Regions from separate parts of the Homo sapiens genome. Here regions 1, 2, 4, 5, 6 and 7 are each reported to be linked to region 3. Evidence: microRNA targets listed by miRTarBase, many of them from high-throughput screens and not tested one by one. Region 3 holds a microRNA gene; each other region holds the end of a gene's coding sequence. Distances are from middle to middle.
The links. Region 3 holds the annotated microRNA hsa-miR-196a-5p (UAGGUAGUUUCAUGUUGUUGGG, at 2,748-2,769, shown strand). A microRNA usually pairs through its seed, bases 2 to 8, with sites in the 3' UTR of a target mRNA and lowers its output. Matches are read on the target gene's strand: a 7mer-m8 pairs with bases 2 to 8, a 7mer-A1 pairs with bases 2 to 7 and ends in A, and an 8mer does both.

Region 1 (4,595 bases), not on the chromosome of region 3:
TGCTGGAGAAAAAACTTGTCTAATGCATTCCAGAGCCAAAGAGAAATGCCTTTTGGATTACCCGCAGTTTAGGCCTTTCTCCACGGCTCCCCCTCTGCTGGGGAAGATCTTGGAGAGCAAGGAGGCCAGGGAAGCAAGAGTAAGAACAGGAGAAGGGAAGGCAGCCAGGGTTGGCAGGGGCGGGAGTCGGAGGAAAGACTGGTCCCAGCAGATGGCAAATGCCAGGTCACAGGGGCGCAGGCTAAGTCCCCAAGAAGCCTGCTAAGAGTTTTAGGTTCTAGAATGCCCCTTTGCCTCCTGTTTGTGTTATTTTGGAAGAGGTGGTCACTGATTGCGTGCTCACCATTTAGCTGAAAGCCGGGCCAGGCATTGCAGGGGACAGGAGAAGACATTTGCCTCAGCTATACCCAAGGAGCCTGTGGTTTAGCAGGGGACGGGGGAGCCAGACTGGCAGTGAGTTATAATGGGAGACATTGATGGTCGTGCAGCCTTTGTGGGCTTTGCAGAGTGTTCTGGGTCGGTGCCCCCACCGCTTCCTCCAGCCTCCTTCAATAACTCCCATCCTTGCCTTTGCAGGCCCTGCAACTGGTTCCTCTTTTCCGATGTCTTGAAGAGGCTGAAGCTTTCCTCGAGGATCTTTCAGGCCCGGTTCCCGCACTTTGAAATCACCACCATGCCCAAGGCCGAGTTCTACAGGCAGGTGGCCTCCAGTCAGCTGCTGACCCCTGCCGAGAGGCCTGGAGGCTTGGACGACAGATCCCCCCCAGGCTCCTCTGAGACTGTGGAGCTGGTGCGGTACGAGCCAGACCTACTTCGGCTCCTAGGGTCCGAGGTGGAATTCCAGTCTTGCAACAGTTGACCGGGAAAACAGCCCCTCCTCTTCTTTCTCCTTCCGAGTTCGCCCTTCCCCCACCTCCTTGTCTTTCCCCGACCGAGCACCAGACTGCAGAATGAGGCAATAATACGGACCAACAAGAAGCCGCCTTATCAATGCCAGCATTAGCGACTGGACTGTTTTTGTTTTTTTGGTTACAATTAGTTCTCATCTCCCTGTCGTCGTCATTGTTATCGTGGTTGCTGATGGGGGTGGAAAGTTGAACTCCATGTCTGAGGACAAGAGGTCCCGGGGGTGGTGGGAGGTGGCGCCGGGGTCCCTTGGACTGGCCTCCTTGTTCATGACCAAGACCAAACCTGGGCCCTGGATGGCCTTGGCCTGTCCCGAGGAGAAATGAGAAAATCCCAGATCTCTGAGCGCCCCCCAACTCCATTCCCCTGTGTTCTTCTGTCTTCTGTAGTATTTATTTTATTAGTATTTAATTTGTATTGTTTCATTGGTTTCTGATAAGTCTGTATCACTGTGACGATTTGAGACAACTTGTTGTATTGAGGGACTTTCTGTACCTCCTTTTCTTTTTCTTTGTTGATGAGCTCTGACAAAGCTATTCCCTGGTGTTTTTTTCCCCCACTGGGGAGGGGGTGAGGTGGAATGGGGTGGGGGAACATGGACTTGTGACTAACGAAGCTGGTTGCTGCTGGCCCAGGGCTGGGGGCTTGGGGGTAAATCCTGAGGCTTTGGTGCTCCCCCACCCACCCATTCCCGCCCTTTGCAGCAGCCCCGCTATCTTGAGATTAGTGTTGACAGGGAGGGGAGGATTGTGAGGTGAGGGGTTAATAAGTTACTCTAATAAAGGAGCGTGGAGAAGGGATCTGAGGGGTGAGGGTGGCCCCCCTCCTCACGCCTTCTTCACTGCCCCCCTCAGAGTGCACAATACGAGTTTGTTCCTGCCTCCACTCTCCCACCCCGTTCTGGCCTCCCTGTCTCAAGATACTGAGCCTCTCACCTCCCAGCCCTCAGCCACCCCCATCCCTGCCCCTTCTGAGACTCACAGCACCCCTTTCCTTCCTCTCCTCCCACCTCCTCCCTCAGCCCCTCATTCTCCTTGGGAATCTGCAGAGGGCTCTGGGACTCACTGCCGGATGTGAAATCCAGGCGTCAGCTGTTTCCTAGGCAAGGGCAGGAAAGTGGTCTCCAGCCCTTGCTCCACTCATGCCTGGGGGCCTGGGGCTGAGTGGTATCCCTACCTGGCCTCCCCCTGGCCTCTGGGCCTCCAGCGCTGGGTTTGTCGAGTGAGAGAGAGAGAGGAGCTTGGGTTGCTTCCCTGTCCCCGCCCCCTCTGTGGCATTGTCCCTCCCACTCTTATTTTTCTACCAATTGCTATTTTTCCGAACAATCCTTGTAGAGTATGTACCATCCAAAGGCAGGAGGGCCTCGCCGTGGCCGGCTCTGGTTGGAGATGGTACAGTTTTATTGTACAGGTGCTAAAACAACAACAACAAAAAAGAAAATGGAAAAAAAAAAGATTAAAAAAAAAAGGAAAAAAAAAAAGCCAGTTTGAGGATGGGACAATCTGTTCTCTAGAGGCTCCTGAGCCATGCGGGAGCATTGGTGGTTATTTTCTTTGTATTGTGTTTGTTCTTTGTTCCTGGGGGGGAAGTTCTCGGCCCCCTTCTGTAGGACTGCTCCCCACCCCCACCATACTGCCCAGTTGGTTTTGAACAGTTGTTTTCCCTTTTTAAGAAAAAAAAATACATATATATATACATATATATATATAAAGTTGAGGGGTTTTGGACTTTAATTTGTTGGTTTTGTTGGGGTTCCTGGTATTGTGTAGTTTATTTCATGTTCTGTTTGCCTTTCCTTTTTTCGCATTTGGGTGTATATTCTGGCTGCCCTTTATGTTTCATTTTAAGCAACTGGCTGTGGAGTCAAAAACACTTGCATACTGAAAAACCTGTGTCAGGGCTTCTGTCTCCCGTCTCTCTTTTTCTCTCCCGTCTCTCTTTTTCTCTCCTCCCCTTTGGGACTTTTTGGTGGTTTCAGAAGGTGGGCATTGTGATTCAGTAAATGGGGAGCCCCCGCCATCCTGCTTTGCAGCTGTGGGTCCCAAGGGGTACGATGAATAAAGGCAAGGTGGAGTGGCTAGTGAACATTGGGTCACGATCTGGAAAGAAAAAGAAAGGGGCAAATCCTGGGGGCGGGGCCAGTGGGGGCAAATGGAGCATCTGGCTCCTGTTGCTTTGGTTTGGGGTTGAAGCAGGTGCCTGGGCAGTCCTTGTTTACATAGGAGTAGCAGGGTTGGAGGAAGTAGCCTTCTCTGTGGTGGCTGTGGGAATAAGCCTCCTTAAGGAAGTCCCCTGCTTGCCCTAGGCCACCCTGCCGAGGTGGCATCTGGCTGCATGGCCTCATCACTGCCCTCACTGTTGTGCCAGTGCTCCCCACCCACGGTGCAGGCCTTCCATGGTTCTGTTTTCCTGCCACCGAGCTACCATGAAGGCAAGATGCCCATCCTGGATTTTGCAGTTTTTCCTCCCACTTCTGAAAAACAGTGGTAGAAGCTATGATTCTTGTGATTGCTGGTTCCAGAATGCACCAGTGACTGAGAGGAAGAGGATGTTCGAGAGGCCTGGGATGAGGCCCTTTGAAGCTCTATTCTCTTAGGGCTTCTCACTGTGGCTTTCGAGTCTGGAGAGCCCTGTTAGAGAGTGTAGAGGCGAAGGGATCTGTGCGTCTGGCTGGCTGGAGTCCAGCCGTCCTCAGGAGTGAACTCTAAGCTGCTGTCTTTGCTCAAGCCTCAGAAGCTTGGCTCGACCCAGGTCCAAGCATCATCCTCTTTGAACCATAGCATTAATCTTCCTCATTGGCCGTCCTCTCCCCACTTTCTGATCCCAAGGCCCTATGCAATAGCCACCTTTGTCAGATTCCCAAACAAGCCCACAGTGGTTCTGAATTCAGGTCGATCCTGTGCTTGGAACTTGCAGTTAAGTCAAGAAATCTGACATGTTGATAGGTTATAAAGCCATGTGGTGAGTATAAGAATTCAACTAGTCCCAGGATGCTATGGGAGCTCAGAAGCATGGGCAAGGGCCCTGGGAACACATCCTAGAAGAGGTGATGCCTAGTTGATACTTTAAAAAGTAGAAATGCAGGAATTAGAGGTGGCAGGGAAGAGTGTTTGAACTGAGAGGACAATCTGAGCAAAGGCTTGGATACAAGGGGAGTTAAAAGCAAAACCAAACAGCAGATTGTTTTATTGCTTTTGGGGTTCTTTGCCCACGGCTTACCTGGAGTCCCACTGCCCTTCTGCCAGGTTGGAAAGATCAAGGCAGGAAGTATGGGCCGTGGCATTAAATCTACATCCCCGGTCAGGATTGGGGTGAGGATGGCTTGGTGGCCTCTTATTAAATGATCTCCCAGTCCTTTTAGTATGGTGTAGAGGAAAGAGCCAGCACCACTCCTAACTACCTAGGCTGACCTTGGGCGAGAACCTAATCTTTCCCAGCCTTAATTGCTCCATCAGCCAAATGGAGGCCAATGTACCCACCTACTGACAGAGCATCACACTGAGGACCATAAAGATCTGTTTAGCCAAAATTAGTTCCTCCTTCATGCCGAGCTCACGAACCTATGGTTAATGAGGGTCTTATCAGAACGCTCTTTGGGCTTGAAAGAGAGGCTCTGTTCAAGTCTTGGTGGGAGGAGGGATAGTCTCCGCATCCCTATTTGGGGTAGGTGGGGTTGGGGGCGGTGGTGA
Region 2 (4,595 bases), 13 Mb from region 3:
CATTTACTTTGCACATCTAGGCAAATTAGACTTAGCAGGTAATTAGAAATTCTTTTTCTAAGGATTATTGTATGGTCTCAAAAACAATAAAGCTAAAGAAAAGGAAATAGATTCAAAGTAAGTTTTGCACTTAAAAATCACTTCTGGCTAGGCACAGTGGCTCATGCGTGTAATCCCAGCACTTTGGGAGGCCAAGGCAGGAGGATTGTTTGAGGCCAGGAGTTCAAGACCAGCCTGGTCAACAGAACAAGAACCTGCCCCTACTTAAAAAAAAAAAAAAAAACATTTCTATAATGAATTAGTTAAAAGAGAACAAGCATTTTTATAGTGGCTTTCATTCATAACATAGGACTAAAATGTATTTCATCATTTTATAAGATATATTGGGAGAATAAGGTAAAACTAAATAGCAGATTATTTTCTGTTTGGCTGACTGATTGATTACCTGTTACCTTCTTAGGCCTCTTTGCACCTCCACGTGCCTTCAGTGCAATCTGACGAGCTGCTTCACAGTAAACACTCCCACCCACTTGACTCAAATCAGACTTCAGATGTCCTCAGGTACAACTCTTTTACCATTAACAGTTTGTCACTGCAACTTTAAAAGAATATAATGTTGATTCTTATATATTTTTCTCATTTTTGGCAAGAATTTACAGTTGTGTACCAGTGGATCTCTAGATAAACACTGCTATTCTAACTTGAGTAATCTACTTTTGAGAATAATTTTTATGGAAATTGCTTCTTTCCCCTCAAGGACTCTCTGTTACACTCTTTTTTAAGGTGACTTTGAGTCTTAAATGCCATAATTGAAAACTGCTTCCAAAATCTAGGTTGGAAATAAATAAATGACTTATGCAGTTTATTTGCTTTTCAGGTTTGTTTTGGAACAGTACAATGCACTCTCCTGGCTAACCTGTGACCCTGCAACCCAGGACAGACGCTCATGTCTCCCAATTCATTTTGTGGTGCTGAATCAGTTATATAACTTTATTATGAATATGCTGTGATCTTCATTTGATGGAACTGTGCAAGAAAAGAACAAGGAAAAATGGATGTTTCGCTGCAGGATTAAGTTACAATTATCTTCTCAGTGAAGGTCATTTGTGATGGGGTCTAATTCTTATTACTTCAACAAATATTGTTTTGACTTGGGGGGAGGGGCTATAACCCTGCTATTTTTCATTGACTCTATTGAACTCTTTAGGATGATGACTGATCATACAAAACGTATTATAACATTTTCGTAGCAAAATTAACCTTTTTTTTTTCCAGTCACAGTATTTGTGAAAAGTAATGAGCCATAGTACCCAGTCATGTTAAATGAATATTAAAAGCATGGAGAGGAAACATGAGGAACAATGAATTTCAACATATGGCTTCAGAACATGAAGATGTTCTTGTATGGATTATAGTATCTAGTATTCAAAAATGCCTGCATCTCTTCTCTTATTTATTGTAAGTTTTTAAATGTATAAATTGTCTTATATTTCTTAACCTCTTTTATAAAAATTTTCCTAGAAGGTTTATACTGCCTTCTTGCTTTAAAGCAATTGGTCTAAAATATATGTAATCGTCTTAATTAAAAAGTTGCAGTAGGGTTGCTTTTAGAGTATTATTTTTTTGTAAGGGGGTGGGTGGGACAGTAAATTTGTATTGTCTCGATGTACAGTTTAACGGGGATAGAGGGGGAATAATGTCCATACCATTGTGTGTGGAGGATTTACAGCTAAGCTGTAGTTGCAGAGTACATGTACAGTAATGAAGTTCACTGTGTTTATAAATTGAAAAGGTACCAGGTCTTACAGCATTTTATATATCACATCTTTACAGAATAACATGATGGCAATATACAAGTGGTATTGTTAGGTGGTTTAACTTAGAATAAAATGAGAATTCTTCAGTTATATTTTGTACTATGGTTTAGGGCTATGACTAATATTTCAGGCCATTTCCGGTGAAAGAAACTTAGTTTTACAAGAAAAACCATTTGCTACTGAATGCTTAAACTAATTTTAGTGTTTAATGTTACATGCTTAAATTTTTTTCAGTTTTAACAGTGGCATATTTAGGCATGGAAATATTATTATGAAATTTATTTTCAGGATCTGCTATAAGGTTGAAATTTAGCCCAGCTCTAGGCATTTTACAAATTATTTTTCAAGCAGTCATTCTTGATTGTTTGACTTTTTTTTTTAAATTAAAGATTGGGAATGTATGTGAGAGTATGCATATGTATGGGTGTGTGTGTGTGCGCGCAATCAAACTGTGGTGTAAATAGATTCTCAGTGAATTCTGGTATTCAGACTCTATTCCACTAGTGAAAGAACCATTTTTTAAACTTCCCTTGCCTTTTTTATTTATTTAATTTTCTTGGTTTGGAGATGTCAGTCCCAAACACCAGAGTCTGTACTTTTCTATAACACAGCTCAGATTAAGGTAGGGCATATGCCAAGGAGGTTCTCACCTCCCTAAAGAAGGGACTTGAATTTTAGGGACTTTAATTCACCCCTCCTTCAATACAACTTTCCCCCTTCTTGTTTGCACATGCCAAGATAACTGCTTTTATGCAGGCTGTACCCCCTTGAAAAATCCTTTCTACAGTGCTGCTCACAAAAGAGCCCAAGTTCGCCTCCTACCTGCATTGCTGACTTGAATTCACAGTCGCCGAGTCTACCTAGCTTTCTTGGAAGCAGTCTAGCAAAATTTCTATTTGTACGTTCACTAATTATCTACAAGGACAAAATCAGTTGTATTTACAAAACTCTACTTCAGTGTTTGTTTTAGTTTTTTTTTTTACTGAAACTTGTTTTTGTGAATACTCTGTGCTTAGAATTAAATATCACTTTCTTATGAACAACATAACTTCTTCAGATTGTGTATATGAAAACATTAGCAAGTCTTGTTTTTTCTATGAAGCAAACACAATTGGTGACAAAGGTTGTCAATCATTTCTTCAAAATTATAATGCAGTTCTAATGGTCAGCATATTTTGATATTAAATTTAAAGATCACCTCTCTGCATTTGTTTTTAAATTATGCTAATACACCACACATTATGTTGGTATGTTTTGTTCTGTACTTTCTTTAAAAAAAAAAAAAAAACTTGTCTGAGATTTGAAGGAAAATGTGCTTATTTGGAATTTCCATAAAAAGAGTATCCTTTTTATACACTTAATAGTGACTTTACAAAATAAAAGTTATATTCTCAGTTGTTTAAAATCACTAACCTATGATAACCACACCTCAATTTGAAAGTAGATTTAAAATTATTCCCTGACAGGTTATTTAATATGGAGCCATAAGGAGGGAACCCAGTACACAATTATTTTTTATTTGGGAATCAGGGAATAGTTCCCAAATATACAGGATTTATTGATAAGATTTTTTTTCTTCCCTTCATATATCCATTCAAACTCAATGGAAAGTTATTAAATAACCATTAGAAAAGCTCAGTAGACTTATTTGAGAAATTAAGCCTTGTGCAGGATGATGGATTTGACTTACTAATGTACTGTCACAGACAAATATGGGTAGTTTTGTTTAAATAGGTAAGCAAAATATTATACTTTATAGCAGTGGATTACCAACACCTTGACTTCTTTGTTACAGTGCTAACATCTTTTTTTTTGTGCAGGTATCCATGATTATTAAGCAGGGTGGAAGTTCAGTATTTTGTCATTTAAAAAGATTAGTTATATAATGTCTGCTTCCAGCCAGTGAGAAACATCTAGCCATACCTTTCTTATGCAAGCCATTGAGTTATCAGGACTGTGAATTAACACTGTATGAATAAATTTCTGTACACCTTATTGTTTGGCCAGAAGGCCACCAAGTGTACTTATATGTAATCCTTAAATTTTAAAGTAGCTGTAATTTTTAAATATTTCTAAACTTTTCTTAAACCACTAAAATTAAGCTCTTACTACTTAGTCAACTATCCTCAGCTGTATTCGTACTCAATTGTCAGTATGGCACAGATTACTGTATTAAAATATTCTCCTTTCGTCTTCATATTTACCTTCTGAGGTAATTTTTTAACTTAATGTGTTACTACAAAGATTTGCAGATCTTTAATCAAGCACTATGTTAATACTGTAATATCAGAATACTATGTTGCATTATTTAAAATGTTCAAATTGAATAGATTAAAAAGTTTTTAAATGCTATTGCATCATATAATTTGCTATTCATCCACTATGGCATTGCATATCAATCAGTTAATACACTTAATGTTGCATGAGTGATATTTTGGTCTGGGTTTCCTCTTAAGATTTTAGTTTGTCTGAATTAAGGAAAAATGTTTTTAATATACATTCTTATTTTGTCCCACCCCTCCAGAAATAAGCTGGAAATCTTAACTTTTTGGGGGGTCTTTTTTGGTGTTTTAATGGGCCCAGAACTGTGGTTTAAATTTTTATGTATGTATTTTCTTTTTTGTGGAGTATAAATTTAAAAACTGGATTTGGGACCTAAAATACTCCTCAGGTTGATGTATTCATGAAGTTTTAAAACATCTTTAGTTTTCAAAGTAAACTGGATATGTGGACCTTAAAGTTATTGAGTTTAAGCTACAAATTGTAACGTCATTACTG
Region 3 (4,000 bases):
CTGCCTAGTATTTTCCCTGCCCGTTTATTTTTTAATCAGATTTTTAAAATATCCAGCAGCACTTTGGTGCCTTTTCTTGGGGTTGGGGAGTGGGGTTATCTATGTGTGTATCTATGGGAAGGTGGGTGCCTTCAGTGCACTAAACCCCCTCTTGGGCCTGCAGCTGGACCTCACTCCTGTACCTGAACACTCTGCCTGAGCCTGAGCTAATCTTAGCCATCCATTGTGTCTCAAAACTGTTTTGGAGGTGAATAACTGTGAGGCAGGATGGAGAACCTTTTGCTCTCCCATCCAGAAGGGCACCTAACCAGGCCCCTGGAGCAGACAAAAGGAGCAGGAAGTCAATCACTTCGATCCCAGTTCTCTGAAGCCCAAGAAGAAAACGGATTTTCCTTCGTTTTGGTTCGGAGGCCTAGTAGAGAATTTGGATTCCACCAAGTTCTCTTTTTTCAAAAAAAGTAAACGGTCCAGAGCAGACAAAAACTGTGGAAACTTGAGGCCTGGGTAGTAGTGGTTTTGTTTGATTTTGAGGCTTTAAAGAGATAAGGAGACGGTGGTGGAGCTCCGCCACGCCGCGTGGCTCTCACTTCCACGCCGAGGAAGACCGACCGGCCCCTAGGTTTATCCTCTGGGAGCCCCCGGCCCAATCAGCCCCCTTCAGGCCTTGGGAGTCACCCCGAGTCTTATCTTCTGTCCCCTTCCAGCAAGTACCCGGCAATAAACGGGCAGGGCTGGGCAAAGGTCTGGCCGCTAGAAACGGAAAAGGAAAGAGAAAAGTAAAGTTAAACAAAAAACAAAAACAAAAAACCCTTGGGTCGGGCGCGGTGGCTTACGCCTGTAATCCCAGCACTTTGGGAGGCCGAGGAGGGTGGATCACGAGGTCAGGAGTTCAAGATCAGCTTGGCCAATATTGTGAAACCCCGTCTCTACTAAAAATACAAAAATTAGCCGGGCGTGGTGGCGGGCGCCTGTAGTTCCAGCTACTCGGGAGGCTGAGGCAGGAGAATCGCTTGAACCGGGAGGCGGAGGTTGCAGTGAGCCGAGATCGCGCCACTGCACTCCAGCCTGGGTGACACAGCAGGACTCTGTCAAAAAAAAAGAAAAAAGAAAAAACCCGCTTTCAGCGGAAAGATGCAAAAAATGGAGGCCACCGGGCGTGGTTGGGAGAGCCTGGGCTTTCGCAAGGAAGCGCCAGGGAGCCCAGTTCTGCTCTAGCGAGAAGCAGGGAGCCTCATCCCAAGCCCGGCGGGCCGAGCCGATCATAGGGTCTGCGCGGGGCTCTGTGGATTTTCCGTGTAGGCGGCGGCTTCCAGTCTCTGCCGGGCGCGGGCTGGGTCAGCGCCGACTCCTCCGAGAGAAGAGCGCGCCTGGCGGCCGGTTCGGCGGAGGCCAAGTCCCGGGGGCTGGGGCTGCTTCTCTCCACGCGGACAAAGTGTGCGGGCAAAGAAAGGGGCCGAGGCGGGTGCTTCTGCCGCTCGTAAATTTGTTTCCCCTTCCTTTTAATCCGCCCCCGGACGTCTTTCTTTTCAGGACAGGAGGGGATGTAAACCGTTTGAAGTTCATCAACACGGTGAAGTTTTATTGTATTTCCGGTCCCCAAGATTTATACCCGGGAGGGGGAGCGGGCGGCCAGGTGGACTCCCTCGCTACCTCGGACTTCCCTGCCGGACACGTGGCCACTCGGACCCTCGCTTCTGGGCGAGGGCGGGAGGGAGCCTGGACTGGGCCGCGGCCGCTGGCTCCGCACCTTCCGACGGCCGCGCACTGCCGGCACCGCCGCCGCCCAGGTAAGTCCGCCGCCGCCCTCGGCCTGCACAGCTGCGTTTTTGCGATGGGTGCGGGTGTGAGCGTGAGCACCTGTGAGCAGGCGGGTGTCTGGAGAGGCAGAGGTGAGGAGCGGGCACGTTAGGGGGCCAAGGACCCAGACCGAAGGTCAGGAAGGAGGAAGCAAATTTGTTCTCTGTGTCCCAATCCCAGTCCTTAGCCTCTCAGTCCTTATTCTGCGAAGATTCGGAATGAATTGTCTTACCTGGGGCAGCTCGGCCTCTGCAGAGCCAGGGCCCTGGGACATTTTGGGCAGGGTGCCTTCACAGCAACTGTTCAGATCAACCGGCTTTCCCCTCCAAATCCCATTCTTCCTCTGTTTGTTCCCTAGAATTCCCGAAACTTTCTGACACTCTGCTTTTCCACCTTTCTCTCTGTCACTTTCTTTCTCAGCACTCTTTTGTCTCACTCTCCTGTCTGAGCCCCAATCTCAAAGCTGGGGGGTGTGTAGGACTTGAAGATCTGGCCTCTCAGAGCTACACTGGGAGGCTGGGTGACCTGGAATACAGGGGCTAGCAGGGTGCTGAGTATAGATGCACCTTCGTATCTGTTTGAAGTTGAGAATTCTTTTTATCTGTGGAGACCTCCAGCTGGGCTGAGAGGCAGAGACTGAGCAGGTATATCAAAGAGGCCCTGCCCAGGCTTGTGCCTGTGTCTAGGGTCTTCTTCTCTGGCCAGGGCTCCTGGAAGGCAGCAAATGTCTCTGGAATCTGAGCTATCAGGACCGGCTCCAAAATGGTTTTACCTAGAGTCCTGGGTTCAGTTCTTCCGATGTGTTGTTTAGTAGCAACTGGGTTCTTCTGTTGGGGAAGAGGTGGAGCAAAATGAAGTTAAGCCGCTTTTTGGCCCACAAAAAAATGGCCACAGGGTTTGCCCCCAGTGAGCTCTTGACCTAGAGCTTGAATTGGAACTGCTGAGTGAATTAGGTAGTTTCATGTTGTTGGGCCTGGGTTTCTGAACACAACAACATTAAACCACCCGATTCACGGCAGTTACTGCTCCTTGCTTAGCTGGAGGAGTTGGGGGAGGGGAGCAGAATCAGGACTGGAAGATCAACCTTGCAAAATGGGGAAGAGGTTTGAGGTCCTTCATCCAGGAGCAACAAGGATGTTCCCCCAGAGAAGAGATCTGGGAAGTGTCTTCCCACTTCTGAATGTTTTTTTGTGTGTGTGTTAGGAGGGGAAGGGGGATGAGGAGCAGTCAACTCTCCCGAGGCACCTCCCTGGCCCTGTTGGGCTGTTCAGCCCAACCCAAAGATGGCAGTCAGAGCTCCAACTTCCAGCCTTAGGGTCTCTGAGCTCTCAACTACATCCAGAACTTTCCAGAGAAACTCTCCCCAACTTCACAAATATTTGATTTCAAAAGAAATGCAGGGGGTTCTTGAGGTTTTTGTAACTCTTTGCGGGCTGGTGCTCCACCTCAGCAGGAAGCTTCAGGTCCTTGAAGAGGGCTCAGTAGGTCTCATTCTGAAAGGCAAACACTGAGAGCTCTTGCAATCTCAGCCTAAAGCCCTCAGGGTCCTGTCGAAGGCCCCCTATGGGACCAGACCTACAGAAGTAGGTCCGAAAAGTCCTTCCTTTCCTAATCCCTCAGTTGACTTTTTCCTCCCCACCCACCCCAGTGGCCAAAGGCTTCCCACTGGCCTTGGGCTGGGCTGGGGGTACACATAGGTCCTGAGTGCCACCTCCTTGGAGAGGGGCCTGACTTGCAAGCTAATGGGGAGCCCAGGTTGTTGGACAATTCAACCCCGACTGATGCAGTGACAAGGGATGAAACCAGGGGTTGGGCAGGGCAAGACTCTGATACCCTCTCTGACCTCGGTCCTCTTAAGGCTGTTGGCCCTGTGCCCAGGAAAGGAATAACTAGAAGTGCTGGTGGAAGAAGGGGGACTTTCCAAAGCATAAGCTAACTTTTGTTCCCAAACCTTCCCCCTGCTGCTTGAGGCAGAGGAAATGTGCAAAGGGGCCCGGGAAAGAGGCCCGACCGGATGGGGCTTCGGCGCCAGGCTGACTTGGAGGGCCAGGGGGTCTCTGAACAAGGGGCTTCTGCTAGAGCAGAGGGGCATTAGGGAGACCCACCCCTAGCCTAGGGGAAATGGAGCCTTCAACCCACTGTCCTGATAAGCAAAGGCTAACAACTCTGTCCCTTGACAGTTTCTCATCCTCTGGTCTGGGTG
Region 4 (4,595 bases), not on the chromosome of region 3:
GCCTGTAATTCCAACTACTGGGGAGGCTGAAGCATGGAGGTTGCAGTGAGCCGAGTTCATGCCCCTGCATTCCAGCTTGGCCTACATACTGGGCGAGACTCTGTCAAAAAAAAGGAAAACAAATCATGTCAGATGCAATCAGAAGTCAGCCTATCATTGGGAGTTTCATGTGTGTATGTGCATGCTCTTGATATCAAATGTGAAACCACTAAATTATCATATGCAGGAAAAGAATATACTGTGAATTCCATTAAAATAAAATATAATATTTACTCAGATATTTGTTGATTAAGTCAATGGACTGTTTTTAAAACTAAAAGCTTTTTTCCTCGATAGGTTACCACTAATGTCACCTGGGGCATTCAGCCAGCGCCCATGCCTGTGCCTGTGTGGGTGATCATTTTAGCAGTTCTAGCAGGATTGTTGCTACTGGCTGTTTTGGTATTTGTAATGTACAGGGTAAGTAACGGACTTAGAAAGAAGGAGAGAGGGAAAGCAGAAGAAAAGGGAAAGGGAAGAAGGAAAAGAAGAATGAAAAGTAAGGGAAGGAAGAAAGGGACTGTAATGATGATACTTGATGAGCATTACTTATTATATGAGGGAAGATAAATTTTATGAAATACAATTTAAATGTTCTTAGTGGTAATATAGTCACCCAAAAAATACTTTTCGTATTCTACACTGATGTGACAGTAATAATGGTTTTTCTTCAACTGACAGATGGGCTTTTTTAAACGGGTCCGGCCACCTCAAGAAGAACAAGAAAGGGAGCAGCTTCAACCTCATGAAAATGGTGAAGGAAACTCAGAAACTTAACTGCAGTTTTTAAGTTATGCTACATCTTGACCCACTAGAATTAGCAACTTTATTATAGATTTAAACTTTCTTCATGAGGAGTAAAAATCCAAGGCTTTACTGCTGATAGTGCTAATTGGCATTAACCACAAAATGAGAATTATATTTGTCAACCTTCTCCTTATAAATAAGTTCAGACATACATTTAATAACATAGGGTGACTTGTGTTTTTAGGTATTTAAATAATAAAATTTCAAGGGATAGTTTTTATTCAATGTATATAAGACAGGTAGTGCCTGATTTACTACTTTATATAAAATAGTACCTCCTTCAGTTACTGTTTCTGATTTAATGTACGGAACTTTATTTGTTGTTGTTGTTGTTGTTGTTGTTGTTGTTTTAAAGCAGTCCAAATTTGGACCTTAGCAATCATGTCTTTTGTATAGGTACTTAATGTTAATACATATTACACTACAGTTTACTTTTCAGAATACTAAAGACTTTATAACTGCATGAACTTGGATTTTTTTAATCACTCATATGGTAGAATTTTATAAACACATACATGATACCATCCAAATTCTTGCTTTTAATAACAAAGGTACAATATTTTGTTTTAGTATGAAAATCTGGTAGATCCTATTACACTTCTGTTTATATTAAATCCACAATATTTTATTACATTTTTAACTTGTATAAATTTTAGGTCAAATCCTTCAAGCCAACCTATACTAAAAATTAGTTCCATAATCACAAATGGCTCTTTTGTGTAATTGTTTAATTTCACCTGAATATCATAATGCTTAAAGCCATATGGAGTTGGAAATTATTTCCAAAGCATATTTATTCCATTGTTTTAGTCTGGCTATTTACAGTATAAAAAAAGCATTTTTATTAAAATACTGTGTAGTTCTTTGAGATAGTTGCTTATGCATATAGTAAGTATTACATTCTTAGAGTAGAGCAGAGTTTTTAGTTAGTATTAATTTATTTTCCTCCATTCATGTACTTTTCCTTATATTTCCAAAACTGTTACTGAGAATGGGTCAAGATCAGTGAGAAATCTTTACAGTTGACAGGAACCTGGACCCCTTACCCCAACTTTATGAGTAATGCTTGGAATAAAAACTCTTAAGGCAACTCACTGATTTACTTCTAGCAATAGCATGATGTTACAGGAATATTACCTCTGTTTAAGCAAGGTAATGTGTAAAATCAGTCTCGGCTGTCAGAATAACTTCTAAAAGGTATTTTTATAAGCAGTTCAAGTTACTGAAAACCTTTTAAACCTTTCTGAAGTTCGTTAGTATAAATTACTTTTCTAGGATTATTAATAAAAGCCACATAGGTGGCAAGTTGTAGTTTTATATGGCTCTGTAGAGTGGTGAACCTTCTAGAGGAATATATGATTTATTCACAGTTCCTCAAGGCCTGGGGATGATGATCAGTTATACCTATTTTTGTGCAATTACATCATGTTGTACATTAGAAATGGAGAGTTTAATAGCTCTTTAACTGCTGTCCTCATTAGGTAATGATAAATATTTCCCTTAAATAATTGACTATTTTGCTGTGTTTTAAAAATGATTGAAATTTATCTTGCCATATCTCATAATTTCATGCACAAGTTGACTGAGCTAATCTTGAGAATATATTCGTAAAATAGGAGCACATTTAGTTGAGGTATACAAGGTAGGACTCTAGACAAAACCTTCTATTTTAGCTTTAGTGAATTTCAAAAGTAATGGGTCTTGGAGTATAGATTTTTATTAGTAGCTTGAAAGAGCTTAATCATATGCAGTAAGTATTTTTATTACCAATAAATTTAAAATTTTTTAAGAAAAATATTTTTATCCTAGGGCCAAGTGTTGCCTGCCACCAATCAGTAAGTTAGTCTATAACAAATTTTACCCTAACAGTTTTACCACCTAGTAACAGTCATTTCTGAAAATATGTTGGATAGAAAGTCACTCTTTGGCAAAAGTGTTAGAATTTGCTTTTGTGCCATCTATTCCTTTTATGGCATCTATCTTGAAAGTAATCTTGTATTGGAGATTGAAAGATGCTGTAATTTAGAAATTAACATGATATCTTAAATTACCTTTATGAAATATAGTTTTGTATAATAGCATAGATTTTCCTTCAAAAAATGAACATTTATATATCTACAAAAATATGGAGAAGAGTAATTTGAAAGCCTACTTTCTGAAGAAAATGGTGGGATTTTTTTTTATCATGATTAAATATCAAAAAATTGCCCTATGAAAACTTTAAATCTCTAAAACATTTGAAATACTACCATATTTGTGATTTATTGAGAATAAAAATCCATTTTGAAATGTAAAATTTTTATGATCTGATTCAGTTTTAAGAAAACATGAATGAACTAGAAGATATTAAAAACATTTGACATTGGTAAGAAATATTGATACTGATATTGATTTTTATATAGGTATTTATTTCAGAATTGATATTTTGAGAAAAATACATGTGAGTCATTTTTTCTGTTTCTCTTTTCTCTTAACGATTATCACTGTAATTCTGAATCTGAAAGGTAAAACAATTAGTCAAAATATTATTGCCATCATTCTACCTGTGTTATGAAACTACTTATTCATAGTTAATTCTCATTAACACTTACATTTCCATAAAGAAAACTCAAGTATTAATAAAAGAGACTTTACTGGCTTAAGAGGGCTGTGAAAGATTTTTGATAGTGAATCATGACCCTAAGGGAGAGATTTGTGTGATAAAAGTATTGTATATAATAGATCAGCGATTTTTGTAAGGCAAACAGAATTTGTAAGTTGGCAGATCTTCCTAAGTTGCAAAATGTAATGATGAGCTTGGTGGAGAAGAATGAGTCGTTCTTGGAATACCTATGTGCAGCCACTACCCATCTCAATGTCACCTTGTTTGCATTCTTGGATAGCTTGTATATGTAGTAGTTTGATGAATAATTTAAAGAAAAACACCTAAAATTTGAAAAATGATTGTAGGATCAAAAAAGGCAGATGAAATTACTTAATACTCAGTGTTTTGGAGAGTATTCCTTTTAGTTTGTTGGTTGGCTGGTTTGAACGATAGAAATATGCAGCATGCAATATATGCTTATATTTCATTTTAATTTCTGATATATAATGAACTTCTTGGGAGAGGTACTGAATCTTTGATGTTTTTTGTCATTGTTCTCAAGTGCAATATAACAATGTAACCAAATCTAGATAATTTCAAAGTTGTCATTAATTTAGTAAGCCTAATATAAACAAATATTTGTATTATTTTTGTTAGCAGGAAAGAGTGATTAAGTGAGGTTATTTACCCCTAAATGGTCCATTCTGCATTGTATTTCAGGCTGGAAATGAATTATTCTTTACCAGTTTTGAAACACTTTGAAATATCCTAAGGTAACTTGGAAGCTGTGTAGTATATCAAATTAATTTGCTACCTAATAACATAGAAAGTAAATATCTTTGTGGTCACCCACATTGGGTGAGACAGAAAATGAATCTGTTCTAAAATTTGTAATTTGCTAACTTGATTTGAGTTAGTGAAAACTGGTACAGTGTTCTGCTTGATTTACAACATGTAACTTGTGACTGTACAATAAACATAAGCATATGGTACCACTTTTGTGTATGGGGTTTATCCTTTCTGTGACGTGTTTTTGTTTTTTGATTACATGAGCTAGCAATAATGCACTAAAAGGATGACCTCAGAGGTAACTTTCTGTAAAACTTCAAATCTTGAATGTCAGTTATTTGATGAAAAGAAACACAAAAAGAGCAAAATGTACCAC
Region 5 (4,595 bases), 18 Mb from region 3:
TGGAAATGTAAATATAGGAGGTTTTTTGGTTTTGGCTTTTGTTAGTTTGCTTATCTGTATTTTTAAACTTTGTATATTGTACATATACTGCTTCTATAATAATAAAGGTTGTTCTTAAGTGCATGAAATAGAAATAAAATAAATGAGGGGTATATTATTAAAAGTTCCATTGTAAGCGGCTGCTTATTAATATCCTTAAAGTATAATATCACCCACATGATGGTTTTTGTTTGTCAGGTGCTACTATGTCGGCATTGATCCTAACAGCTTGCATTATTTGGTGCATCTGCTCAATCAAGTCTAATAGACACAAGGATGGCTTTCATCGGCTCAGGCAGCATCATGATGAGTATGAAGATGAAATTCGCATGATGTCTACCGGCTCCAAGAAGTCCCTCCTAAGCCATGAGTTCCAGGATGAAACAGACACTGAAGAGGAAACATTATATTCTAGCAAACATTGAAAAACACATTTTGCATATCTCCCAGCATAAGTACCAAGCAAAATTACAGTTCCTCTTGGGAGAACACTGCATTAAGAAGAGAGACTCTCTTGCTTCTTCAAAGAGCTTTGGGAAATTAAATTGCTAAATTTGTATTCTCTGTGAATTTCACTGGCAGTTTTGAACTTCCCTTCCTTAAAGTACTCTAAACCTTTAAAAAAAAATCTGATTTATGCAGCAGAGATGGGACAGCCACTTTTTCTTTTTAATTTAAGATGAGCTATTTGGAGCTTATGTAATAATGGCATAAAGCCAACTAGAGGATGTTGTATTTTGCACATCAGATGTTTACTAGTGGCTTTAGTATTTTTCTTTGTTTTAAATGGCCAAAAGAATCCAGAAACATTAAGGCAGGGACAGCAGTCAGAATCGACATAAAGCTTTAAAAACTCAAGGTTTTTTCAACCTACTGAGGAGTACTTTTCTCTAGTTGTTAAATAGCTGGAGTTTTTCTTATTCAGGTTTAATGGAGGTTGAATTGATTTTTAAACACATATAACAGTAGGAAATGAATAAATGGGCTTCTGCATTTGGCTTTCTACCTGTTCCAAGGCTAGATCGGAACTGGTAGACTACGCTGTAAGCAGGATTTCACTACCTCTCTTAAGGTTTAGCAAACTTCTAAATAGCCCATTTTAAGGGAGAACTTACTAACTTTATTGTGAAAGGTCTAAATGCCCACTTGAATGAAGCTGAGAGAGAGATCTAGCAAAAGCTAAAACTCATGTTGTCTATCTTTGAACTTGGTAAAAACCCACAGGTGCTGCTGCTTATATCTGTGAAGCACTAGCTTATTCTAGGAATGCCTGATTCTTTAATATTGCCTAAATCGGAACCTTTTTCTATGTTGCACACATGGTTTTCAGATGACCCAGCCATCTACAAGATCTGAATTCTACTGAAAATATCTAGAAATGTGGAAGAGACCTACTTGCACATTCTTAACCTGTATTTGAACACAAAATATCTATACTTCATGCTCCAGCCCAAGCCTATACCCTGTAATAGCATACTATTATTGAAATCGCTTGACCGGTCTTGTTCACATAGGCCTCTGGGAGTGATTTGGTTCTTTGCCCTAATGTTTCATTTGACGGTCTCTTTTTGATCAACCAATTTTTCTAAAAGTTCAGTCGAAAGCTTTTAAGTATAGCTTCCTCCCTTGAAAAAAAATGTAAACTATGACTGCTGAGTGATAAAACACTGTGGTGTGAAAGTGTCATCTTCACTGCCAATCAGGCAAAGACCGGAAAGATTTGCATTTTATTATGTCTGTCTTATCATGCAATGGAAATGATGCTTTTTGTAAGTATGCATCTTACCAATGATGTAACGGTTTAATACCTTTGAATGTTTTAATAACCAAGTTGCTGCTGAACTTATACTAAATCAGGGGACCAAAAAACTTGCTCTTATCTTCTCAAATTGTATTCTATATCCATTAATGTATCAGTTATCCCAAAGCCTTCAGGTGGAGGGGTTTACCACCTTCCTAGGTCGTTCAACCAGGTTTTGTGAGGAATGCATTCAAAGTGGCTTTATAAAAGAAGATTTTCTTTAGCAAGAATAATGAGGTCATGTCATTTGTTAATAAGTATCTGTGATAAATCCGTGGTTCAAGGTTAAGCCATTCTGGTATTCTGGTATTAGCAACTGTAAATTCTGCCACCTCATACATGGAACAGAGCTTGTGGGATGCTAATAGTTAGTGAAGTATACATGATTTAATTTCTAATAATCTTTATGTTTTCTTTAAGGATGGTGGTGTATTGCTCTTTTTCAGCTTTATTTTTAAGAGTACAGTCAGGAAACCAACAAGGGGCCTAAGAGTGGCTGCCCCTGCTTGGGACATTACAGCAAGTGAAACAAAGTTAATGTGACAAGCTTTGCTTTGTTATCATTGGTCTTCACTAGAGGATACCTTTTACATGTACTTCTCTCTTGGATCAAATATGTCTTTAACTGTACATCTCAGTGGCTGGAGGCCATGCCTTTTAAGCATGTGTAAAATTTTTAAAGAAATGAACATACACATAGTTATTTTAGTAATATTTCCTGAAAGAAAAACCAAATTCTGCTATAAGTCTTGATCTTCAATGAACTTTTAAATAATGCATTTAGCTGGAAAACAAGACTTTCCCAGCTTGTATTACCTAGAAGCGTGAATGTATAGGATACCTGACTACTAAGACTATATTCTCAGCCCTGCCCTGTCTTTTATTTGCGGGTCTAATCTAATATTAGAATATATTAACCGCTTAAGGCATTGAAGCCATATGGGATGGGGAATGCATTTCTTCAGTGTTTCTCCGAGAGACTTTCCATTTCCTTGGAGTTATGGCGGCAAGTAAGTATCATAGTATTAAGAAATTTGCCTAAATCTGAGTTGTGCCTTTCTTTACTCACAAGGCATGGGCTTTGTCCTGGTGATCAGTTTGTAAGCCTTCTTCCTTCCCAGCTCCTTAATAAAAGCAAAGTGATTGAGTAGGTAATGTTCAAAGTGTCTGCCTGTGTACATGTACTTGTATTGATTATGTAGTTCAGTAAGATGTGCCCAAGTCATTTCAGAAAGAAAGACCCTTCAGTTTTGATGCATTTTGCTGAACACTTGGGTAGTGAGTGGGATCCTATCCAGTTGAGGAATGCTTGCAATGCTCATTGAAGGGATTTGCTTTGGGACTTTGTCATCTTCCAGAAAGGAAACATATTGTATATTTGGCCCAGTGTGATTGATTGCTTTATCTTTGGTAACTTTTACTTGAATGGGATTTGCTGAATTAATGACTATTGAATTTAAAACTAATTATGAGTTGACAAATAAATAAAAGGTAGTGTTTATGTCTGAGCTTATTGTGTTTGAGCTAACACCAGGTTACTCAGTAACCATGACCTGCTCCTCCATTTCCATTTATTCTCAACATTAAATAGTTTTATCTTGTTGTTGCCAGAAATGCACTTGTGCCAGGTATTGTCCCTGCTGTATGAAAAGCTTCTTGGCAATGAATTCTGTAATAGTGCCCTACATTATGGTTTTCTGGTGGAATTGTTTTAACAGTGACAACCCAGGATTTCCAATATATTTTTGTTTTATTGTTATTACCAAAAATTCCACTATGATTGATGTTCAGTGATTTTCTATAGCAACTTTTTTGGTAACTCTTTGGGTTTCTGATTTGTTTTAGCTAAAATTTTGGGGATATGATTTGGGTCTTTGATTAATGTCAGCTGAACTTGGATTTCTAGTTCATGAAGAAATCTCTCCCAATACCCATTTATCCTATTTTTAGCAATAATTCGTTAATGATTCCACTTGATTTTCAGAATATTGTCCTGGTTGATTTTGATTTGACAGCATACATTATGAAATTTGAAAGTAGGTTACCATTTTGAGGCAGTTGGATATAAATTATGTAAATATGTATGATTATGATTTTTATAAATGGCATAACATGAGTGTACTAACTACCTTCTATGCTGGCCATGCTACAGATTTTCTGGAGGTATGACAATAGTATTTTTTTATGCTCAGATTAAAAATCAGCTTTTCACCTCTCCAGTTTTTCCAAGTGATACTCCCAGTTCTAGAGCAATCTACAGCTGTTTATGTGAGGTGCCCAACACCCATTCATCTCAAGTGCTTCAGTCTTTGGTTTATTTCATGCACTGTGCCTTCAAAATGAAATTTTTAAAAGGGACTTTAAATGAAGTTGAATAGTAGTTTTTAAAAGTCAATTTGTAATTTATGTGAAATCTAACTGTAATGAGGTCCTTTCTGTTTTTTATATGTAAACAGATCTACTAATCCTGTATAAAAGTTATTTTACGATGTTTGTCTTTCTTTGTGTTTTGTCTCATAATCTTTTTTCAGATGCAATATGCCGGAAAAAGTTATAGGTCCAGTTTGAAAATTATTTAGTTTTTCTGCCTATGCTAGTGGAAAAATAGTACCAGGATCAGAATACAGGGTATCACCTATGGAATGTTTCTGTATTTATGAATTGACTCAAAAGAAAGCTTTGTTTCTGAAATCGCATTATGTAGTAGCCACAGTTTTCTGTTTGTAGCTCAGCTAGATTGTTATATATGTTCAAT
Region 6 (4,595 bases), not on the chromosome of region 3:
CTGTACTAAAAATACAAAATTAGCTGGGCGTGGTGGCGCATGCCTGTAGTCCCAGCTGCTTGGGAGGCTGAGGCACGAAAATTTCTTGAACCTGGGAGGCAGAGGTTACAGTAAGCCAGGATCGCACCATTGCACTCCAGCCTGGGCAACAGAGCAAGACTCTGTCTCAAAAATAGATAAATAAATAAATAAAAGTTTCTCGTGTATTTTCTAATCCCCACAAAGAAACTGTAAGCTCCCAGAGAGAAGGAGGTGGGCCTGTGATTCCTCTGTCGCTCCCTTAGGGCTCCAGGTGGAGCTGACTGGCTGCTTTTGGGAGATGGGCTGGGCACGACTTCTCTGCCTGGGAGTATTGAAAAGATAGACTCTGGGCTCATGGGGTTGGCGCAGGCAGCTGGGAGAGCTGAGGCAGCCAGAGACCACAAACGGCACCGTGAGCTGGGTGGAGCTGGCCTTGTGGGAAGGAAGCAAGGCCTGCTGTTAAGGGTCTCTCTGAGCTTTTCCACATTTCCAATTTCCCATGGATAATCCATCATGTTCATCTGTACTTTTTGTCTCCATATCATGTGGACAGGTTCTAACATTCCCATGGACCAGCCCTGCTGTCGTGGTCTCTATGACTTTGAGCCAGAAAACCAAGGAGAATTAGGATTTAAAGAAGGGGACATCATTACATTAACCAATCAAATAGATGAAAACTGGTATGAAGGAATGATACACGGAGAATCGGGATTCTTCCCCATTAATTACGTGGAAGTGATCGTGCCTTTACCTCAGTAAATGTGTAACACAAACTCTGGACATACTTTCGTAACTGAAATGAATTCACACCAGTGTGCTCTCAGTGCGGTGTTCTGTGACATCCTTTGCTCTCTGACCAACTTAATGACTTTTGTATGTGTGCTCTCTTTATAATGTATTTTATATCACTTTAATTTGTATAAATGATTTTCTTGTCCTTGCTACATGAAAATATTTTCTTTTTTGCTTCCTGTCCTAAAAGTCATTGGTTAAATGTATTTGCTTCCTGTGGCTAAAAATAAGTCTCACCCATTGCAGTTATGTCAACGAATGGCCTATATTCCTCAGCTGCAATGAAATGGTAACATTTGAAACTAAGAAATGCTAAATATTTTGTTTCTCGACATTCCTGATGACGTCTGGTCTTTTCTTTTCATTGTATTTTAAGCTTACCTGTGAATAGCCCAATAAACATGACACACTGTGTTGGCAAAAGGCCTTGGTTATTTTTAATGTTGAATTGTTGATTTTTAAGCACAGTCTTCCAGCTGCAAACTCACACCCCATGGCCAACCGAAGTGTCACAGCGCAGATGCTTAGATGATGCCTCCTGATGGGAGCCTTCGCTTTCCACCTGATTCAAACATGACACGAATCCTCCTTCCAGCTGGGGGATGGAAAGCCCTTCTACTTACCTTCAAGTTTATTTATAAAAGACCCCAAATCAAGCTTCTGCTGCTGCCATATTTTGGATAGGTTTTTCAGAAAGTTGTGTTATGGGTGCTCAGGAAGTAGTGTGGTCAAGAGTTGATTGAGTCCCCAATAACATCCTCTTAGGCTCAGTGAACCAGCCCCTGGCCTTGCCTACAGTACGCACTAGTTACATGCTTTGGCCCACTGGAGTCTACAATCCTATTATGTGAAGGGGCAGGTATTATTTCCCATTTGAAAAGAAGGAGCCTCATTGACTGACTTACCTAGGATCAAACGACCACATACAGACACACCTCAGAGATATTGCAGGTTCTGTTCCTGGCTACTTACTGCAATAAAGCAAATATTGCAATAAAACAAGTCACACAAATTCTGGGGGTTTCCCAGTGTATAGAAAAGTTGTGCTTACACATAGACACGAGGAGGGGAACAACACACACTGGGGCCTGTTGCTGGGGGAGGGGAGGAGGGAGAGCATCAGGAACATAGCTAATGCGTGTCGGGCTTAATACCTAGGCGATGGGTTGGTAGGTGCAGCAAATCACAATGGCACACATTTACCTATGTAACAAACCTGCACATCCTGCACATGTACCCTGGTACTTAAGAAGAGTTGTGTTTACACTATGCTGTAGTCTATTAAATGGGTAGGAGCATATGTCTTAAAAAAACAAACTACACACCTTAATTTAAAATACTTTACTACTAAAAAATGCTAATGATTATCTGAGCCTTCAGCAAGGGGTAATATTTTTGCTGCTGGAAGTTCTTGATATTGATAGCCACTGACTGATCAGGGTGGGGTTGCTGAAGGTTGGGGTGTCTGTGGCAATTTCTTAAAATAAGACAACACTGAAGTTTGCTGTATGGGTTGACTCTTCCTTTCACAAAAGATTTCTCTGTCACATGCAATGCTGCTTGATAGCATTTTACACACAGAACTTCTTTCAAAATTTGAGTCAGTCCTCTCATCCTACCACTGCTTTATCAAGTTTATGTAATATTCTAAATCCTTTGTTGCCATTACAATAATGTTCACAGCATCTTCACCAAGAGTAGATTCTATCTCAAGAAATCATTTTCTTTGTTCAACTGTAAGAAGCAATTCCTCATCTATTCAAGCTTTTTTACGAGATTGCAGGAATTCAGTCACATCTTCAGTCTCCACTTCTAATTCTAGTTCTCCTGTTATTTCCACCACATCTGCAATTACTTTCTCCACTGAAGTCTTAAGCCCTTCAAAGTCATCCAAGAGGGTTGAAATCAACTTATTCTAAACTCCTGTTAATGTTGATATTTTGACTTCCTCCCATGAATCACAAATGTTCTTAAAGGCATCTAGAATACTGAGTCCTTTCCAGAAGGTTTTCACTTTACTTTGCCCAGATCCATCAATAGAATCACTAGTTATGGTAGCTGTAGCCTTACAAGATGTATTTCTTGAGTAATAGACTTGAAAATAGAAATTACTTCTTGATCCATGGGCTGAAGAATGGATGTTATGTTAGTAGGCATGAAAACAACATTCATCTCCTTGCATATCTCTATCAGAGCTCCTGGATGACAAGGTGCATTGTTAGCAGAGATATTGTGAAAGGAATCTTTTTCTCTGAACGGTAGATCTCAACAGTAGGCTTAAAATATTTAGTAAGCCATGCTATAAACAGACATACTGTCATCCAGGCTTTGTTCCATTTATAGAGCACAAGCAGAGCAGATTTAGCATCATTCTTAAGGACCCTAAAATTTTTGGAATGGTCAGTGCGCATTGGCTTCAATTTAAAGTCACTAGTTGTATTAACGCCTAACAGGTTAATCTGTCCTTTGAAGCATTGAAGCCAGAGATTGACTTCTCTAACTAGGAAAGTCACAGATGACATCTTCCCATGTAAGGCTATAGTTTACATTGAAAATCTGTTGTTTAGTTTAGCCAGCTTCATCAATAATCTTAGCTAGATCTTCTGGATAACTTACTTCTCCATCAGCACCTGCTGCTTCACCTTGCACATTTATGTTATGGAGGTGGCTTCTTAAACCTCATGAACCCACCCCTGCTAGCCTCAGACTTTTCTTAATGCAGCTTTCTCACCTCTCTCAACTCTGGATTAGGCTTTGGCTTCAGGTAATGCAGCTGGTTGATCATCAGACCACTCAAACTTTCTTCATATCAGCAAGAAATCTGCTTCACTTTCTTATCATTCATGTATTCACTGGAGCAGCACTTTTAATTTCCTTCAAGGACTTTTTCTTTGCATTCACGACTTAGCTAACTGAGGCAAGAGGCCTAACTTTCAGCCTACCCTGGCTTTCAATAAGCCTCCCTCACTAAGCTTAATCATTTCTAGCTTCTGATTTAAAGTGAGAGACCTGTGACTCTTCTTTCACTTGAACACTTAGAGGCCATTGTAGGGTTACTAATTGGCCTAATTTCAATATTGTTGTATCTCAGGAAATAGGGAAGCCTGAGGGGGGAATGGCCAGGCAGTGGAGCAGTCAAAACACACACAACATTTATCAGTCAGGTTCACCATCTTATATAGGCATTGTTTGTGGTGCCCCAAAACAGTTAAAATAGTAACATCAAAGATCACTGATCACAGATTAACATAACCGATATGATAATGAAAAAGTTTAATATATTGTAAGAATTACCAAAGTGTGACAGAGACAGAAAGCACATGCTGTTGAAAAAATAACGCCGATAAAAACGGTTACCGCAAACCTTCGAAGAGTTTACAAACCTTTCTAAAAATCACTATACCTGTGAAGTGCAATGAAAAGACGTAACCCTGTTGTGGCAGAGGCAGAGTTTGAAATCAGATTGCTGTACCTCACTGCACACTTAAGTGTTCACCCAAGTCACTTGGAAAGGCACTGCTGATCACTGACTTTTGTAACAAATGCCCGGAAGCCAGACTGATCACCTAAATCAGGTAACCTAAGCCAGGTTCCCCAGTCTTCTGATTCCACGGTACATCACTAAATTCACAACAATATGTTTTCCCTCCAGCCAGCTATACACACACACACACACCACTTCTCCAGAACAGTTTTACATTCAGTGTCTGTAATCAAATAATGATAATAATAATGGCTAACTCTTGTGTGCTTACTATGTGCCAGGTGCTGTTCCAAACATT
Region 7 (4,000 bases), 4.8 Mb from region 3:
AAGGAATGCTGAGGGCAGTCACACCTCAGGCGCAGTGTTTGTGATTATCTACAGGCACACATGAAGCCTGTCAGCAATTATGTGAACCTGTGATAAATCAAGCAGCTGACCAAAGGTTACCTGCTCCTCCCTGCTCTTTCTACCCAATAAATATGGAGGGCTGTGGAAGCTCAGGGCCCTTGCTCACTAGAAGCAAAAGCAAGGACCCCTTCTTTAAAGCAGATTCTTTTGTCTTGTTTTCATTTCTGCATTTGTCCTCTTTTGTTCGGTCCTGTAGTAACTGTCACAAGTGGCGTACATCCTCCTTCATTCAGTCCCATAGTGACAGTCACACAAGTGCAGGTATCTTTTTGGTGGAACGATTTCTTCTCCTTTGGGTAGATGCCCAGTGATGGGATTGCTGGAATGAATGGTAGTTCTATGAGAACTCCCCAAACAGCTTTCCACGGGGGCTGAACTAATGTACGTTCCCACCAATAGTGTATAAGCACTCCCTCTTGTCTGCAACTTCACCAGCATCTCTTATTTTTTGACCTTTTAATAGCCATTCTGACTGGTGTGAGATGGTAACTCATGGTAGTTTTGGTTTGCATTTCTCTGATGATTAGTGACGTAAAGCACTTTTTCATACATTGTCACTTGTATGTCTTCTTTTGAGAAATGTCTGTTCATGTCCTTGGGTACAAGCACTTAGAAGGAGCATCTTCTGGGGATGGGGGAGTGTGCAGGGGCAAGACAGAGGAAAGGAAGACATCGCAGAAAACAAGACATGTTGCTCTGACTTCCATTCTAGTAGTCATCTGTGCTGTGCTCCCCAGCTCTCACTCTCTCCCAAAGCCATCCATCCAACCCCAACCAAAGAAAAGCAGAGCCAGAAGCCTTTGCTTTCACATTTAATCCAAGGAAAAAGAAAGAAAACCAATCAGTGAGAAAACTCAAGAATTGGATGGCTGAGGGAGGGAACAGAGGAAGCGCACTGGGGCTGGGACTGAATATGGACAGTGGATGGTAGGGTCCTCACTCTCTTGAGGTCCCTCAAATACAAGAGTCCACAATGGCAGGGAGGGAGAACAGAGTCATAGAGCTGTGGTGGGGGCACACACCTGTTCCAACCCAGCCCCAGCCCTGTTCCAGGTGAGCCAAGGACTGACAGCCTCTGCTAGGTACCTGGGAGGGCTGTGGAGTGAGGGCTCAGGCAGGGGAGGTAGGAGGCTGCTCAGAGAGGAAAGACCGAGAAGAGACAGGAGGGAAGGGCCCCAGGCCTGCCCCTTGAGCATCCCTAGCAGTGAAGGTGCCATGAAGGCCAGGTACCCAACCCATCTCCATCAGAGATGATGGTCATTTGGATCAAGGGGGCAGAAGCAGCTGCAACAACAGATCTTCCCCTGCCTCTACCCTCAAATCCCCCAGAGAAGGTAGGAAATGGCAAGTGACCCTATAGCCTCAGGTCAGCAAGAAAACACCCCATTTCCTTCCCACTCCCTTAGGCTGAGGGTGATGCAAGGCAGAGCTGAATCAGGATGAAAGGACACTGACTAAGGGAAAAGAGGAGCAGGAGAATGAGTGTGTAGTATACGCAGAGCCACACCAACGAGATGGGGGCAGGCCTGGCCTTTCCACCCCATGTGTATAGTCTATGCAAATGCAAATGAGATTCCTAGTATAAGAAATATATTCTAACATTTGTAATAAATATTCTGTTTATTCTCCTTCCCCTTCCCTAGGAAATGGGCACACAGTGGTTCAGGGGCCAGCTTTGGCTGACGCTGCAGCGAAGACTAGTTAGACACTTGGAAGAACTGGGAGGCACAAGGGTTTGGACTCAGGGTGTCACAGGTTGTCCCCTCTGAGGACAGGCTCCCCCCGGAAGGAATGCAGAGAATAATGAAGGATGAGATGCCCAAGTACATCTAGGACAGCATTCTTTCTTAAAGGGAGTCTCCTATTTTACAAAACTGCCCTCCCCAAGTTATGGCAGGGGGGCATTTAGGGTAGGGGGACAATAAGACAAGGGAGGAGACATCAGGAAAGGACCAGGGCTTTGGAGTCTGGGATCAGGGTATTATAAGAAATGAGGGCTGATGGGGAACCCCCAGAAAGGGGCCCCAAAGAGTGACCTCCAAAACAAAACCCTTTGCTTCCTCCCCAAATTAAACCTGACACACACACACACACACGCACGTGCACACGCACACACATACACACAACCTGGTGCCAGAGGCACAGACAGGTGCCGAACATGCACGTGGAACCACAGGTTGTACAGACTACAGTGTAAATGGCGCCTCTGGAGTTGTGTGTGAGGAACCTCCTGGAGGGCAACTGTCCTTCAAGCCCAGGCTCCCAAGGTCCCCTCTGCACTCCTCCTTAGCCCCTCCAACCCAGCAGCCCTGATGCAAGTGGGCTACCTGGACCTGGCTAGACAGAAAACCAAATGGACCAAGGTCAAGGACATAGAGCTCAGACCTGTGCCTGCTGTGGGCCATGGAGAGCTTGGGGCTCTTCAGTTGGTAACAGCAGGTTGTCACAGGGCTCAGCCCTCCATCCTGCCCCTACCTGGGCTGAGCCCACTGGCCCCTGCCAGCCTGGCCCTGTGGGGAGCAGGGCTGACCTGTCAGGACACATTGGAGAAATCTGGAGAAACTTCGGCAGTGAGAAGCTGTGGATGAGGGAAGGACCGAGCAGCATCTGCCCTGCGACCCTGTCCCTTTCCAAAGGAGCTGGGAGCTGCAGTGCTCTGCAGCTGTGGCCACTAGCTCTCACTCTGACTCCTCCAGCCTTCAAGATGGCACCAGGCTGGCACCACCACCCGGGCCTGCCTGGCTGCCAGCGGGCCACACATTCCCCTGGTCACACGGAAACAGCCCAAGGCCTGTTCCTCCGACACAGGGGTGAGAGGTGGGAGGAGTCCAGGAATGGGGTGGGTGTGGCCAGTCCAGAGGAGAACTGGTGACTGGGGAGGGGTGGCAGGGGGCAGTGTGCCTACTGACCATGTGGTCCCAAAGCAGCTTTTCTCTTCTCTGTACTGACCATTATGGAGGTGACTCTGACACATTCCTGGGCATAGCTTGGCCCTCAGAGATATCTGGTGACCAATGGGCATCAGGAGTGGGCAGCACCTGGGCACAAGGTACCCCATGAATGCCCACCTCCCTGGCAGTGCACGCCTCTGTGCTGAAGCCAGACTTAGGGCCTGCTGGGAGCTGTTACCCAAGGACAGCCAGATATGGGGGCTAAGGATTGTGGCAGGGGGTCACAGGTCAGGAGGGGGATGGATTCAGGTTCTGGGTTTCAACACAGAGTGAGCCAAAGACCAGGTGAACAGGCTCAGTACACCCAGCTGACAGGCACCCACTGGGGCTCTGTCCGTAGCTTCTCCATGGCTGTCTGGAGCTCGCGGAAGGTCCTCTCCAGGTTGCTATTGACCAGGCAGAGGTCAAAGTAGTGCCCGTAGCCCCGCTGGATGCGGCTGCTCTCCTCCACTGTCCGTCTCAGGTCCGCCTCCTGCCCAGGCACAAGGGGACCTCCCTACAGTCAGTGCCCACAACTCACCCCCACTGTCAGAAGGAGCTACAGCTGCCCCCACTCCCCCTCCCCAAAGCCCAACCCTGGTGTGGACTCCCTGGCTAGGGAGGCAGGGGCCCCTCTCTGCGTGCCTCAAAGTGGCTCACCATCAACCACAGATGGTGAGTGAAAGGGAGGAAATAAGCTTTAATAACTGCCAATCACACCCCTAAATGCTTTGCATGCCACATAATCTTCACTACAGCTCTGCAAGATAGGATTAATTCTTTCCCATTTATAGCAGAGAAAATGAAGGTATAAAAAGGTCACATAGCCAGTCAGTGGCTAAACAGGGTCTGCCTGACTCTCAAGCCAGTGCTCCCTCAAGTCTGACTAGGCTGCCTTACCTATGCAGCTAGACAGGCTGGTACCAGGGCAATCCACAAGTACCCAGGGCAACCCCACCCTCGACCCAGTGGAAGCTGGATGGGCAGGG

Region 1: the mRNA of BCORL1 is a reported target of hsa-miR-196a-5p. The part of its 3' UTR that is shown has no 7-base or 8-base seed match.
Region 2: miRTarBase lists MED13 as a target of hsa-miR-196a-5p. Seed matches in the 3' UTR shown: 7mer-A1 at 2,674-2,680.
Region 4: the mRNA of ITGAV is a reported target of hsa-miR-196a-5p. Seed matches in the 3' UTR shown: 7mer-A1 at 4,241-4,247.
Region 5: the mRNA of CPD is a reported target of hsa-miR-196a-5p. Seed matches in the 3' UTR shown: 7mer-m8 at 1,097-1,103 and 7mer-m8 at 3,965-3,971.
Region 6: the mRNA of SH3GL3 is a reported target of hsa-miR-196a-5p. The part of its 3' UTR that is shown has no 7-base or 8-base seed match.
Region 7: miRTarBase lists MPP2 as a target of hsa-miR-196a-5p. The part of its 3' UTR that is shown has no 7-base or 8-base seed match.

Annotation. Positions count from the first base shown.
Region 1 is chrX:130,055,278-130,059,872 of GRCh38, forward strand. It overlaps BCORL1 (BCL6 corepressor like 1), which reads left to right. Exons shown (of 14, transcript NM_001379451.1): 14 at 577-2,794. The coding sequence ends at 859. Among named protein-coding and RNA genes, the nearest start is that of ELF4, 53 kb to the right of the region's middle.
Region 2 is chr17:61,942,883-61,947,477 of GRCh38, reverse strand. MED13 (mediator complex subunit 13) reads left to right here. Exons shown (of 30, transcript NM_005121.3): 29 at 461-561; 30 at 878-4,595. The coding sequence ends at 1,010. Among named protein-coding and RNA genes, the nearest start is that of INTS2, 17 kb to the right of the region's middle.
Region 3 is chr17:48,631,301-48,635,300 of GRCh38, reverse strand. MIR196A1 (microRNA 196a-1) reads left to right here and starts at 2,742; the gene lies at 2,742-2,811. It overlaps HOXB-AS4 (HOXB cluster antisense RNA 4), which reads right to left. Exons shown (of 2, transcript NR_046611.1): 2 at 369-750. LINC03057 (long intergenic non-protein coding RNA 3057) reads left to right here. Exons shown (of 2, transcript NR_186590.1): 2 at 1-497.
Region 4 is chr2:186,676,477-186,681,071 of GRCh38, forward strand. ITGAV (integrin subunit alpha V) reads left to right here. Exons shown (of 30, transcript NM_002210.5): 29 at 337-459; 30 at 721-4,425. The coding sequence ends at 816. Among named protein-coding and RNA genes, the nearest start is that of FAM171B, 15 kb to the right of the region's middle.
Region 5 is chr17:30,464,351-30,468,945 of GRCh38, forward strand. It overlaps CPD (carboxypeptidase D), which reads left to right. Exons shown (of 21, transcript NM_001304.5): 21 at 238-4,595. The coding sequence ends at 464. Among named protein-coding and RNA genes, the nearest start is that of GOSR1, 11 kb to the right of the region's middle.
Region 6 is chr15:83,617,508-83,622,102 of GRCh38, forward strand. It overlaps SH3GL3 (SH3 domain containing GRB2 like 3, endophilin A3), which reads left to right. Exons shown (of 9, transcript NM_003027.5): 9 at 575-1,236. The coding sequence ends at 780. Among named protein-coding and RNA genes, the nearest start is that of ADAMTSL3, 34 kb to the right of the region's middle.
Region 7 is chr17:43,874,480-43,878,479 of GRCh38, forward strand. MPP2 (MAGUK p55 scaffold protein 2) reads right to left here. Exons shown (of 13, transcript NM_005374.5): 13 at 881-3,504. The coding sequence ends at 3,328. Among named protein-coding and RNA genes, the nearest start is that of CD300LG, 29 kb to the left of the region's middle.